Homo sapiens: one gene and its partners. The protein of the gene in region 1 purifies or fractionates together with the protein of each later gene. This does not show direct contact. Each region holds a gene or a part of one and is shown on either strand. Other genes may lie near its edges.

Region 1 (3,500 bases):
CTGCTGGTTGGAATTATACAGGTAATGAACTTACAAGTAAAATATAGATGGATGTAATTTTTATTTGAAATTAACTTTAAAGCATATAGACTTAAAGATTCTACTAAAAACAAAACAAAGTAATTTCCTGGAACCCAAAATTATTTTCTAAATTACGTTGTTTTAGGTCAGGTGCTAAAATAGTAAGCAAGACCCCACTTATTAAGGCTCACTTATCATCAAAGTCAGAGACAGAAAAAAGCACAGAAGAACATGTGTGATTCAATTGAGGATGAGAGAAGGGAAATATACGGGAATCCATAAAGGAGAAAAAGTGTTCTGGTGAGCGGAGACACAGGACCGAAAGCCACATAAATAAGCTCTGGGTTTTTGCTTTTCTAAGTACATGTATAGAAATACTTCAAGGTTTTTATTACACTTAGTTTTCAAATTTTAGAGTGGTGGAGGAAGGGGAGTGATAGGGTATTAAGAAATTCATATTTTTTTCTACCAGTATTTTTGTGCTATAGGCAGGCTACTAGTGTTTTCATTGGTATTAAGCTTGATGTAATATTTCCAGAGAGTAGGTTTCTATCTCAGGCAAACATTTAATTTTTCTTTCCTTTTCCTTATCGTAGTTGATATTTGGTGGCTTGCAGATTGGATTCATAGTGAGGTACTTGGCAGATCCTTTGGTTGGTGGCTTCACAACAGCTGCTGCCTTCCAAGTGCTGGTCTCACAGCTAAAGATTGTCCTCAATGTTTCAACCAAAAACTACAATGGAGTTCTCTCTATTATCTATGTAAGTGTTGCTTCTTGCTCCAGGGATGGGTCACTGTTCATTCCAGAAACAATTGTATTCATTCTCTGAGTCTGGGCCAGGCGTGGTGGCTCACACCTGTAATCCCAGCACTTTGGAAGGCCGAGGTGGGCAGATTGCTTGAGCCCAGGAGTTTGAGACGTGAGACCTCATCTCTTAAAAAAAAAAAAAAAAAAAAAGAAAGAAAGAAAAGAAAAGAAAAAGAAAGAAAAAATCCAAAAATCCGAAAATTTGCTGGGTGTGGTGGTGCACACTTGTAGTCTCAGCTACTTGGGAGGCTGAGGTGGGAAGATCTCCTGAGCCCTGGAGGTTGAGGCTGCAGTGAGCTGTGATCGCCCCACTGCACTCCACCCTGGGTGACAGAGCAAGAACCTGTTTCAAGCAAAAACAAAATCAAAACAAAACAAAACTTGAGTCTGGGAGCACCCACATTTCTTTCTTTCTTTCTTTTTTTTTTTTTTTTTGAGACAGAGTCTTACTCTGTCACCCAGGCTGGAGTGCAGTGGCATGATATTGGCTCACCACAACCTCCACCTCCCGGGTTCAAGCGATTCTCCTGCCTCAGCCTCCTGAGTAGCTGGGATTACAGGCGCCCGCCACCACACCCAGCTAATTTTTGTATATTTAGTAGAGACAGGGTTTCACCATTTGGGCCAGGCTGGTCTTGAACTCCTGACCTTGTGATCCACCCACATCGGCCTCCCAAAGTGCTGGGATTACAGGCGTGAGCCACCGCGCCCGGCCTGGGAGCACCCACATTTCTCTATGCATACTTTGGGAGCCATTGAAAACATTTGGTTGCTTCTGTCAGAAATACTATTGTACTTAAAAACATTAATGAAAACAAAGTGGTCTAATGAAGTAAAGGCTGCTCTGGAATGTAACAGACTTGATTTCTAGCCTCAGCTTTGTCTCTAACAGGTAAGTGACCCTGGATACATCATGTAGGGTGCTAATTGAAAGCTCAGTTTTAGAACTGGATGGACCTTGATTCATATTCTGGCTCTACTGTCTACTAGCCATGTGAGCCAATCACCATGCCTCAGTTTCCTTCTCTGCAAAATTGGGTTAGTAATAGTATATGCCTCATTGGATTGTTAAATAAGAATAGATAAGCACTTGGCCCAGGGGCTGGTACATAACAAGTACTCTAAATAAAGGAGTTATTTTGAAATGATTATTTCAAGCCATCTTTTCTTTTTTATTGGTGAAATGAAATGATTGGAGATGTATCTCTAAAAGCTTTTTCTAACCATAAGAGTCCGTAAAATGCATAATGTAAATGTCTCAACAATTATAAATGAAAAGGAACATTAGATTCAGAGATGATTCACCATGCAAAAGAAATGCAAAAGCAGGATGTAGATCACACTAATTAGATTTGAAAAAGGTTTTGGATCTAAAAATGTGTTCTACATAAAGCATGTTATTGATGCTTGAAAAATGGTGATAATAGTAACATGATGTCATCCTAGCTTGGGGGGAATGATACCATACAAAAATAACGTGTCAACATTAAGAATGGAGTTTGAGTCTTTAAAGACCCACCTATTAGCTTCTAAAACAATGTAAGGCCATGTACACATATCTAAGAATTGGTGAGTATGTCAATAATTGCTCAATTTTATAACGGTGCCATAATCCCATACTATTACACTCCATCCATTCAACAAATATTACCAAGTGCTTACTACAGGCCAGGTACTATGCTAAGCAGTGAGAATAGACAGAGGAGGCAGAATAACATAGTGAATAAGATCATGAGGCCAGGTGTGGTGGCTCATGCCTGTAATCCCAGCAGTTTGGGAGACTGACACAGGTGGATCACTTGATCCCATGAGTTCAAGATCAGCTTGGGCAACATGACAAAACCTTGTCCCTACTAATAATACAAAAATAATTAGACATGCATTGTGGCACGCACCTGTAGTCCCAGCTACTTGGGAGGCTGAGGTGAGAGGATCACCTGAGCTCAGGAAGTTGAGGCTGCAGTGAGCCGAGATCATGCCACTGCCTTCCAGCCTGGGTGATGGGAGTGAGACCCTGTCTCAAACAACAATAACAGCAACAACAAACAAAAAACCAAAAACAAACAAAAAAGATCATGGACTTTGAACTTCAACAGACTTGAGTTGGCATCTTGGTTCTCCACCCACTACCCATGATGTTTATACTCAACTTCCCTAAGCCTCAGTGTCCTCAATTGTAAAATGGGAGTAGTAATAGTAGCTACCTCTTAGAGCAGTGAGGATTGAAAAAGAAAATACGTGTAAGGCACTTAGCACAATATCTGTCACATAGTAAGAATTGAGTTTATTATTATTATTATCACAGATGAATAGACCTCATGAAGCTCGCCGTTCATTTCCTCGGGACCCAGCCTATTAGGAAACATTAGCAAAAGTTTTTGATTCAGCATTATATGGGTCATTCTTGATATGTTTTTTCCTGTCAAATCCTCAGTTTTCTATTAAAAAAGAATTTTTTTTTTTTTTTGAGACAGGGTCTTGCCCCATTGCCTGGGCTGGAGTACAGTAGCACAGTCATAGCTCACTGCGACCTCCATCTCCCTGTGTCAAGCGATTCTTCCCCCTCAGCCTCATGAGTAGCTGGAACTACAGGTGTGCACCACCACACCTGGCTAATTTTCTTTTTCTTTGTTGAATTTTAGTAGAGGCAATGTCTTGCTATGTTGCCCAG
Region 2 (3,500 bases), on another chromosome or scaffold:
TGCTGGATGGCAAACTGCATTATCTCGTAATCTTCATCTTGCAAATGCACATTTCTGCCATTGTCTTGAACATAGTAAGATTCGGGAATTTCAAACACAGATTGATCAACCTCAAAGTTTGTGATGTGGGAAGCTGAAACAAAAGGCAACCGTCCAGTGTCTGAGTTCATTACATTTCCACTCCAACTTTTTGCAAAAATGTTGTACATTAGAAAAAAAAGAAAGGCTCAAAATTATAACAATCAAGGCTTACTATTATATGAGAGATTCTGAGGAAGCATGACAGAAAAAAGTGACAGAATACAGCTTTTTTCTTTTTCCTTGATTTTAGTGGAAACAACGAACACAGTCATAAAAAAATACACAAGACTATAAAATGAAAAGCGCAGATTTCTCCCCCTAAACATATACGCACAGTCACACCAATGTGTTTCTTCCTTTTGCAGGAAGATATATGGTAAATATATAAAAGTATATATAAAATATCTGAACACTTAAAAATGATAATAATTAAACAAATGCCTGTGTGCCCTTCACCTAGCCTAAGACACAGAACACTATCAATAACTGCCGGGCGCGGTGGCTCACGCCTGTAGTCCCAGCACTTTGGGAGGCTGAGGCAGGCAGATCACAAGGTCAGGAGATCGAGACCATCTTGGCTAACATGGTGAAACCCCGTCTCTACTAAAAATACAAAAAAAAAAAAAAATTAGCCGGGCGTGGTGGCGGGCACCTGTAGTCCCAGCTACTCGGGAGGCTGAGGCAGGAGAATGGCATGAACCCGGGAGGCGGAGCTTGCAGTGAGCCAAGATCGCACCACTGCACTCCAGCCTGGGTGACAGAGTAAGACTGTCTCAAAAAAAAAAAAAAAAAAGAAAAAGAAAAAAACACTATCAATACCATACTGCGGGCACATCCCTTGTTAACAATATTCCCTTCTTCCTCTCCAGAGGTAAATACATAATTCAGAATAGTTGTTTACACTGCCTAGCTCTTCTCTGGAGCTTGCCACATGTATATCATCCTAATAGTTTGTATTAGCCTGTTTGTGAACTCGACATAAATGGAATCATGCGGAATTTATTCTTCAAATTGGATTTTCTTCATTCAACATTATGCTTTTGAAATTCAACAGTTTTGACGCACATAGCTATAAATTTTTATTTTCAATACTATATGTTATTCTGTTGTATTAATAGAGCACAATAGCGCATTCTACCATCTCGGGACATTTGGGTCGTTTCCAGGTTTCTGCTGTTATGAATGGATGCTGCTGCCCAGTACTGGGGTCTCCAGATGCTCATGTGCATAACTTTCTTTAGGGTACACATCTAGGAATTGCTAGGTCATCCACATCTTCAGTTTATACAGTAATGCCGAATGTTTTATTCAAGGAACTATACCAATCTCCTCTTCCAGCCAAGAGTGCACGAGTGTTCCTTAGCTGCACAACCTCATGAACACATCTCACCCAACTTTGTTGCTACATGGGAATGTAAAGGTGTATATTATTGTCGAGTTCAATTGTTTTTATTTGAAGTCTTAATTTATATACATTAAAATGCTATCTTTTAATTCCTCCTACTGGTAGACTACAGGGGAGAAACATAGGACCATCATGATAGTTGCAGAAAACACATCTCACAAAAATCAATACTTAAAAATGGTAATAACTCTCAGCAAACTAGAAATATAAGAGAATAATGTCCTCCAACTAATAAGGGACATTTATAAAAAACCTACACAGCTAACATCATACCTAATGGCACAACAATCCTTCCTCCCCTAGAACCAGGAACAAGACAAGGACAGCCATTCCTACCACTCTTACTCAACATTGTACTAGATGTCCTAGCCAGTCCAGTAAGTCAAGAAAAAGAAATGAAAAGCTTAAAGATTAGAAAGGAAAAAGTAAAATTTTCTTTATTAATAGACAACATGACCATATATGTAAGAAATTCTAAGAAATCTACAAAAAAGTGTAAGACAAGTAAATTCAGCCATGTTACAAGATAAACAAGGTCAATCCTGGCCATGCAATTGTGTAAGAAAAAAAAAAGATAAAAAATTTTTAAAAACGATTCAAGGTCAAAATACAAAACTCAATTATATTTCTATATACTAGTAACTGGAAATGAAATTAAGAAAATAAGTCCATTTACAATTGCATCTAAAATCATGAATTGTATTGATGGCAAAGGAGTGTAAGGAAATTTGGGGGCATATGGAAATGCTGTCTACCTTGACTATGGTGGTGGTTACACAGATGCATACATTTGTCAAAATGTGGCTGGGTATGGTGGCTCACACTAGCACTTTGGGAGGCCGAGCTGGGTGGATCACTTGAGGTCAGGAGTTCCAGACCAGCCTAGCCAACATGGTGAAACCCAGTCTCTAATAAAAATACAAAAATCAGCCAGGCATGGTGGCACGCACCTGTATTCCCAGCTACTTGGGAGACTAGGCAAGAAAATCGCTTGAGCCTGGGAGGCAGAGGCTGCAGTGAGCAGAGATTGTGCCACTGCATGCCAGCCTAGGTGACAGAGTGAGACTCTGAGAAAAAAAAAAAAAATGCACTGAACCATCACACTTAAAATGAGAGCATTTTATTGTATGTACATTACACCTCAATAAAGCTGATTTTTAAGAACATCCTTTCTTTTTAATATAACTAGGATCATATATATTCTACAAGTTTTTTTTTGCTTAATCTAAACTAAATCTGAAATTTTCTTTCATCCAACACAGACATCTACTCCCTCAGATATTCCAGCTTCAGAGTGAATTATGAATATGATGACTGAATTATAATTTTTTTTTTTTGAGATGTAGTTTTGCTCTTGTTGCCCAGGCTGGAGTGCAATGGTACAATCTCGGCTCACAGCAACCTCCATCCCCCCGCCTCTCCCCCAGTTCAAGCGATTCTCCTGCCTCAGCCTCTCGAGTAGCTGGGATTACAGGCATGCGCCACCACACCCGGCTAATTTTTGTATTATTAGTAGAGACAGGGTTTCTCCATGTTGGTCAGGCTGGTCTCAAACTCCCGACCTCAGGTGATCCACCCACCTCGGCCTCCCAAAGTGCTGGGATTACAGGCATAAGCCACCACGTCCGGCCATAAATTTTTTTTTAAATAACAAAACTAAACTTTGTATTTATTTATTTTTTTACCTGAATCAGCCTGGGTCCCTTCCACATTTTGAGATACAGATTCTTCGGCAGTGCTACAGCCATTAACATTTCCAAATGTAATCCGTGCATTTAAGACATGAAACAAGGGAATTTCTAACAAACAAAATAAAAACTTTTATAAGTAAACTTTACTGAGAATAACAATAATAGTTATCATTTACTAAGTGCTTACTATGCCAAGTACTTTGATAAGTATAATTTTATTTAAGCCTCATAACAACCCTTCCCAATACACAGACGGGAAAACTGAGATTGAGAGTTGTGTATTTTCGGTCAGGCGCGGTGGCTTACACCTGTAATCCCAGCAC
Region 3 (2,404 bases), on another chromosome or scaffold:
GGTTGGACGAAAGCCTGAGGGGCCGACTCACTGTGGCGGCCACCTTGTTTTGCAGAGGGGGACCTACCTGCCGCAGACGTACATCATCCAGGAGGAGATGGTGGTCACGGAGCATGTCAGTGACAAGGAGGCCCTGGGGTCCTTCATCTACCACCTGTGCAACGGGAAAGACACCTACCGGCTCCGGCGCCGGGCAACGCGGAGGCGTGAGTGGCTGGCTTCACCCACAGTAGCCCCTGTCCCGTGCCCCAGACCACAGTTATCTTCACGCCTAGCCCAGCTGTCAGAGAGCTCAGATAGCAGCAGCAATAACAGCTAGCATTAGCAGAGCACTTCCGTGTGCCGGGCAATGCTGTGTGCTCTTTATGACCTCTTAAGAGTGTAAGTCATTCTCATCCTCATTATTATTTTTGCTGCCCATTTTAAAGATGAGGAAACAGGTGCAGAGAGGTTAACACCCTGGAGGTCACACAGCAGGGAGGTGGCAGACATGGGCAGGCTGACTCCAGCTTTCGAGCTCTCCCCATTTCTCACTGTGCTCTTTGGGTGAATCTGGGTGAATGGTGTCACTTCCTGGCCCTCCTGTGGCTCAGGCTGAGGCTGGTGGTCTTTGTGACTCAGCCAGGATGCAGGGCTCACTGGGGTTTTTCTTTTTCCTCCCAGGGATCAACAAGCGTGGGGCCAAGAACTGCAATGCCATCCGCCACTTCGAGAACACCTTCGTGGTGGAGACGCTCATCTGCGGGGTGGTGTGAGGCCCTCCTCCCCCAGAACCCCCTGCCGTGTTCCTCTTTTCTTCTTTCCGGCTGCTCTCTGGCCCTCCTCCTTCCCCCTGCTTAGCTTGTACTTTGGACGCGTTTCTATAGAGGTGACATGTCTCTCCATTCCTCTCCAACCCTGCCCACCTCCCTGTACCAGAGCTGTGATCTCTCGGTGGGGGGCCCATCTCTGCTGACCTGGGTGTGGCGGAGGGAGAGGCGATGCTGCAAAGTGTTTTCTGTGTCCCACTGTCTTGAAGCTGGGCCTGCCAAAGCCTGGGCCCACAGCTGCACCGGCAGCCCAAGGGGAAGGACCGGTTGGGGGAGCCGGGCATGTGAGGCCCTGGGCAAGGGGATGGGGCTGTGGGGGCGGGGCGGCATGGGCTTCAGAAGTATCTGCACAATTAGAAAAGTCCTCAGAAGCTTTTTCTTGGAGGGTACACTTTCTTCACTGTCCCTATTCCTAGACCTGGGGCTTGAGCTGAGGATGGGACGATGTGCCCAGGGAGGGACCCACCAGAGCACAAGAGAAGGTGGCTACCTGGGGGTGTCCCAGGGACTCTGTCAGTGCCTTCAGCCCACCAGCAGGAGCTTGGAGTTTGGGGAGTGGGGATGAGTCCGTCAAGCACAACTGTTCTCTGAGTGGAACCAAAGAAGCAAGGAGCTAGGACCCCCAGTCCTGCCCCCCAGGAGCACAAGCAGGGTCCCCTCAGTCAAGGCAGTGGGATGGGCGGCTGAGGAACGGGGCAGGCAAGGTCACTGCTCAGTCACGTCCACGGGGGACGAGCCGTGGGTTCTGCTGAGTAGGTGGAGCTCATTGCTTTCTCCAAGCTTGGAACTGTTTTGAAAGATAACACAGAGGGAAAGGGAGAGCCACCTGGTACTTGTCCACCCTGCCTCCTCTGTTCTGAAATTCCATCCCCCTCAGCTTAGGGGAATGCACCTTTTTCCCTTTCCTTCTCACTTTTGCATGTTTTTACTGATCATTCGATATGCTAACCGTTCTCAGCCCTGAGCCTTGGAGAGGAGGGCTGTAACGCCTTCAGTCAGTCTCTGGGGATGAAACTCTTAAATGCTTTGTATATTTTCTCAATTAGATCTCTTTTCAGAAGTGTCTATAGAACAATAAAAATCTTTTACTTCTGACCTTGACTTGAGTGTGGCTGGAGGGGAGATGGGTGTAGGAGGGGTGCTCCGGGCAGGGTCGAGGAGCTGGACCTCGGGAGCAGCAGGCAGGGAGAAGCCTGCAGACCTTGACATCTGGCCCCTAAAGAGCTGGGCATCCTGGATTCAGCCAAGGAGTGTAGGATATCCCCTTCGTAGCACCCTGGATCTGAGCCAGGTAGAGTTCACACTTTCCGGGTGAGGAGGGGAACAGGGCTGGGAGAGCTTACCGACTCGCCCAAGGTCGTGCTGCTTTAAGTGCCTGTAAACCACCCTGTAATGTTCTACCTGGCAGATGACATCATTATTGCATGTCCTTAAGCACAAGGGCGGTGTCCTATTCTCCACCACGTCTGGACAATTTGTAACCATTCCTGGAGGATCTGAAGTGAGGTTTGGTGTGATAATCACAGGGTCACATTCTCCAGAGAATTCTGGAAGCGGCAGGAGAGCTGGCCAGAGCCATGTCTAGGTGGACCCCA
Region 4 (3,500 bases), on another chromosome or scaffold:
TCGGAGGAATCCCGGGAGTAGTGGGAAGAAAAGTTGCAGATGTTTGAAAATCAGGCTGCAGGGGCAGTTGGGGTGAGGAGCATGGATGTCTAGGAGCCTGAATCTCAGCGTTGGAAGCCCAGTTCTGATGTAATTTTTTTTTTTTTTTTTTTTTTTGAGACAGGGTCTCACTTTGTCCCCCAGGCTGGAGTGCAGTGGCACAGTCTCAGCTCACTACAGCCTCATCCTTCCAGGTTCAAGCAGTCCTCCTGCCTCAGCCTCCCAAGTAGCTGGGACCACAGGCATGTGTCACCATGCCTTTCTAATGTTTGTATTTTTTTGTGGAGACAGGGTTTCTCACTGTTGCCCAGGCTGGTCTCAAACTCCTGAGCTCATGTGATCCTCCTGCCTTGGCCTTCCAAAGTGCTAGGATTACAGGCGTAAGCCACTGCCCAGCATCCCCACCTTTTTTTTTTTTTTTTTAAATTTGTGGTTTGGTGCAGGTTATTTTACCTCCCCAGGCCTCGGTTTCCTCATCTACTCAAGGGCAATGGCAGATAATCAACCTCACAAATTCCCCGAGGAGTTAGTAGGCTTGTGCCTGCCAGGCTCAGCTGGCTTACAGCAGGTGCTTCATAAGGGGGAGCTATTGCAACGCCTCGGCTGGTTCTAGGCTGCCTAGCTCCAGAGCTAAGAGTCCCAGTGGGTTCATATCCCTTTGAGCATTTATAGGCTTCTCACAGGTCTCCTGGGCTTTCTCAGCCATTCCTCATCTGACCTGAGGAGGTGTGATGTCCTTGCAGGACTCCTCCAGCCCCTCTGAGCTTTTTTTTTTGTTTGAGACAGCATGTTGCTCTGTTGCCCAGGCTGGAGTGCAGTGGTGTGATCATGGCTTACTGCAGCCTCCACCTCCTGGGGTCAAGCGATTCTCCCACCTCAGCCTTCCAAGTAGCTGGGACTATAGGTGTATGTTACCATGCTTGAGTAATTTTTAAAATTTTTTGTAGAGATGTGATCTCAGGCTGGTCTTGAACTCCTGGGCTCACCTGGGCTCAAGTAATCCTTGAGCCCAAAGTGTTGGGATTACAGATATGAGCCACCTTGCCAGGCCCTGAGCTCCTTCTGTCTTCCATGAAGGACACACTATTCCTTGCCTTTTGTCTTTTTTTGTGTGTGTGGCAGGGTCTCTGTTGCCCAGGCTGGGATGTGTTGGTGCAATCTGGGCTTATTGCAACCTCCGCTTCCCGGATTCAAGTGATTCTCCTGCCTCAGCCTCTTGAGTAGCTGGGATTACAGGTGTGCGCAACCACGCCCAGCTAATTTTTGTATTTTTGGTAGACATGGGGTTTCACCATGTTGGCCAGGCTGGTCTCAGCCTCCCGAAGTGTTGGGATTACAGGCATAAGCCACTGTGCCTGGCCACTTTTTGTCTTTTGCATGTTCTATACACCTTGCCGAGAATGTGCTTTCCCTGCCTCCTGGTTATCCCTCAGGTTTCAGCTCTAACATCACTTCCCCAGGGAAGCCTTACCCTCGCTTTCTTCTGCTATAGGATAATATGAACCACCATCATTGTTACTTGTTTAGTGTCTGCCCTCCCTGCTAGGCAGCAAGGACAGATATCTTGCCTGTCTTAGGTCCCCAGAACCCAGCACAGGGCTTGGAACATGTCAGGTGCTCAAATATTTGTTGAATGAGTCAGTCTGGGCTCGCAGAGGGAGCTGGGACCAGAGTAGAGTGGACACTGAAGCGTATGTAGCAGTTTGCCAGGCGATAGGGAAAGAGACCTTCTTGTAAAGCAAGCAGAGATGAGAGGGAGAAATGAGAATTGCTAAGATTGTTTTGAGCATTTGTTAGGTGGCTTACAGATGCTTTGCTGAACATTTTATTCATGTGATCTTGTTTAAGCCTCTCATTTCCATGAGGGGTTCTCCATTTTTATAGACAAGGAAGGGGACACGTGGAGAGGGGAAGTTACTTTGCCATATCACCCTCTAAGGGATTTTTTTTTTTTTTTTTTTTTTTGAGATGGAGTCTCACTGTCACCAGGCTAGAGTGCTATGGCGCAATCTCGGCTCACTGCAACCCCCACCTCCCGGGTTCAAGTGATTCTCTTGCCTCAGCCTCCTGAGTAGCTGGGACTACAGGCATGTGCCACCACATCCGGCTAATTTTTCTATTTTTAGTGGGTACAGGGTTTCGCCATGTTGGCCACATTGATCTCGAACTCCTGACCTCAAGTGAGATTCGCCTGCCTCTGCCTCCTAAAGGCAGTAAGGGAATTGAACCTAGGCAGTCTGACTCTTAAGAGCTCAAAGACTTAAGCTCTGTCCTGAGTAGCTTCGCTGGTGTATGGTATAGGGATCAGAAGAGAGCTGGTCTGTATGCCTAGAGGGCATCCTGCAGTGGGCATGTGTGTCTGTGGTCACAGTGGGAGAGAGAGAGGAGGGGGCATCTGTGGCCAGAATGGGGAGGCCTCGAATGCCAGGATGAAGAGTTTGGGCCTATGGTAATGAGAATAGTAATAGCTACCAGTTATTGACTTGCCAGCCACTTGATTGAGTCATTTAACCTCACAACAGTCCTATGGGATAGGTGTTAACTGTTTTCATCCCAGTTTTTCAGATGGGGAAACTGAGACACAGAAGTTGTAGTCAGTTATCCAAAGTGTCGCAGTGAGAAAGTGCTGGAGTTGGGGCTCAGACCCTGTGAGTCAGGCCCCAGAGTTCACTGGGGCCACATGCTCAACCACCATGCCGCCTGCCTGCCGCCGGGGCTGAGCCAGCGGAAACCTGGGTGCTGCTTCTGATGCAGGTGGTCTCCTCTGCTCTCTTCCCCAGCACCCCCCCAGGCAGCAGCAGCAGTTTTCATCTCTGGATGACAAGCCCCAGTTCCCAGGGGCCTCGGCGGAGTTTATAGATAAGTTGGAATTCATCCAGCCCAACGTCATCTCTGGAATCCCCATCTACCGCGTCATGGACCGGCAAGGCCAGATCATCAACCCCAGCGAGGACCCCCACGTGAGAGGCGGCCTCCCCCACTTCCCGTGCCCCCCACGCCCAGGCCCCTTGCCTGTCTCCTCTCTGGTCCCAACTGCCCCACGTCTATCTGTGCCTCCACCCGCAGCTGCCGAAGGAGAAGGTGCTGAAGCTCTACAAGAGCATGACACTGCTTAACACCATGGACCGCATCCTCTATGAGTCTCAGCGGCAGGTGCGTGGGGACAGGACTAGGGGCGGGGGGCTGGAATTACCTGAGGTCCCCTACCTGTGTTTGGGCCAAAGGAATGGCTCCCAAGGAGGACAGATTCTTTTTTGGGGGGGTTCCATAGAGTTCTGAGGGTTCTCTTGGGACTCTGGAGGAGAAGTGTGAGAGCAGTCCTGCCTTAGGGCAGAAGGATGGACCTGATCACTAAAAAACACCTACTGTGTGCCTGGCTGGGGGCTCGCCTGTGTGGGGAGAGGGCAGGGAGAAGGCCTGACAGCCCTTCCTCTTGGAAATGCACAGTCCTGAGAAACAGG

Evidence for each region.
Region 2: the proteins of SLC26A4 (region 1) and ANKRD13A purify together in Homo sapiens (affinity purification with mass spectrometry; one large-scale study listed by BioGRID and IntAct). This does not show direct contact.
Region 3: the proteins of SLC26A4 (region 1) and ITM2C purify together in Homo sapiens (affinity purification with mass spectrometry; one large-scale study listed by BioGRID and IntAct). This does not show direct contact.
Region 4: the proteins of SLC26A4 (region 1) and BCKDHA purify together in Homo sapiens (affinity purification with mass spectrometry; one large-scale study listed by BioGRID and IntAct). This does not show direct contact.

Annotation. Positions count from the first base shown.
Region 1 is NC_000007.14:107,674,328-107,677,827, forward strand, and holds part of SLC26A4 (pendrin), read left to right. Parts: coding exon 1-21; intron 22-617; coding exon 618-782; intron 783-3,500. UniProt on the Homo sapiens protein: Sodium-independent transporter of chloride and iodide. Mediates electroneutral chloride-bicarbonate, chloride-iodide and chloride-formate exchange with 1:1 stoichiometry. Mediates electroneutral iodide-bicarbonate exchange.
Region 2 is NC_000012.12:110,030,430-110,033,929, reverse strand, and holds part of ANKRD13A (ankyrin repeat domain-containing protein 13A), read right to left. Parts: intron 3,286-3,500; coding exon 3,172-3,285; intron 1,484-3,171; exon of another isoform or gene 1,220-1,483; intron 134-1,219; coding exon 1-133. UniProt on the Homo sapiens protein: Ubiquitin-binding protein that specifically recognizes and binds 'Lys-63'-linked ubiquitin. Does not bind 'Lys-48'-linked ubiquitin.
Region 3 is NC_000002.12:230,877,345-230,879,748, forward strand, and holds the end of ITM2C (integral membrane protein 2C), read left to right. Parts: intron 1-55; coding exon 56-206; intron 207-663; coding exon 664-755; 3' UTR 756-1,904; downstream 1,905-2,404. UniProt on the Homo sapiens protein: Negative regulator of amyloid-beta peptide production. May inhibit the processing of APP by blocking its access to alpha- and beta-secretase.
Region 4 is NC_000019.10:41,407,818-41,411,317, forward strand, and holds part of BCKDHA (2-oxoisovalerate dehydrogenase subunit alpha, mitochondrial isoform 1 precursor), read left to right. Parts: intron 1-2,819; coding exon 2,820-2,999; intron 3,000-3,105; coding exon 3,106-3,192; intron 3,193-3,500. UniProt on the Homo sapiens protein: Together with BCKDHB forms the heterotetrameric E1 subunit of the mitochondrial branched-chain alpha-ketoacid dehydrogenase (BCKD) complex.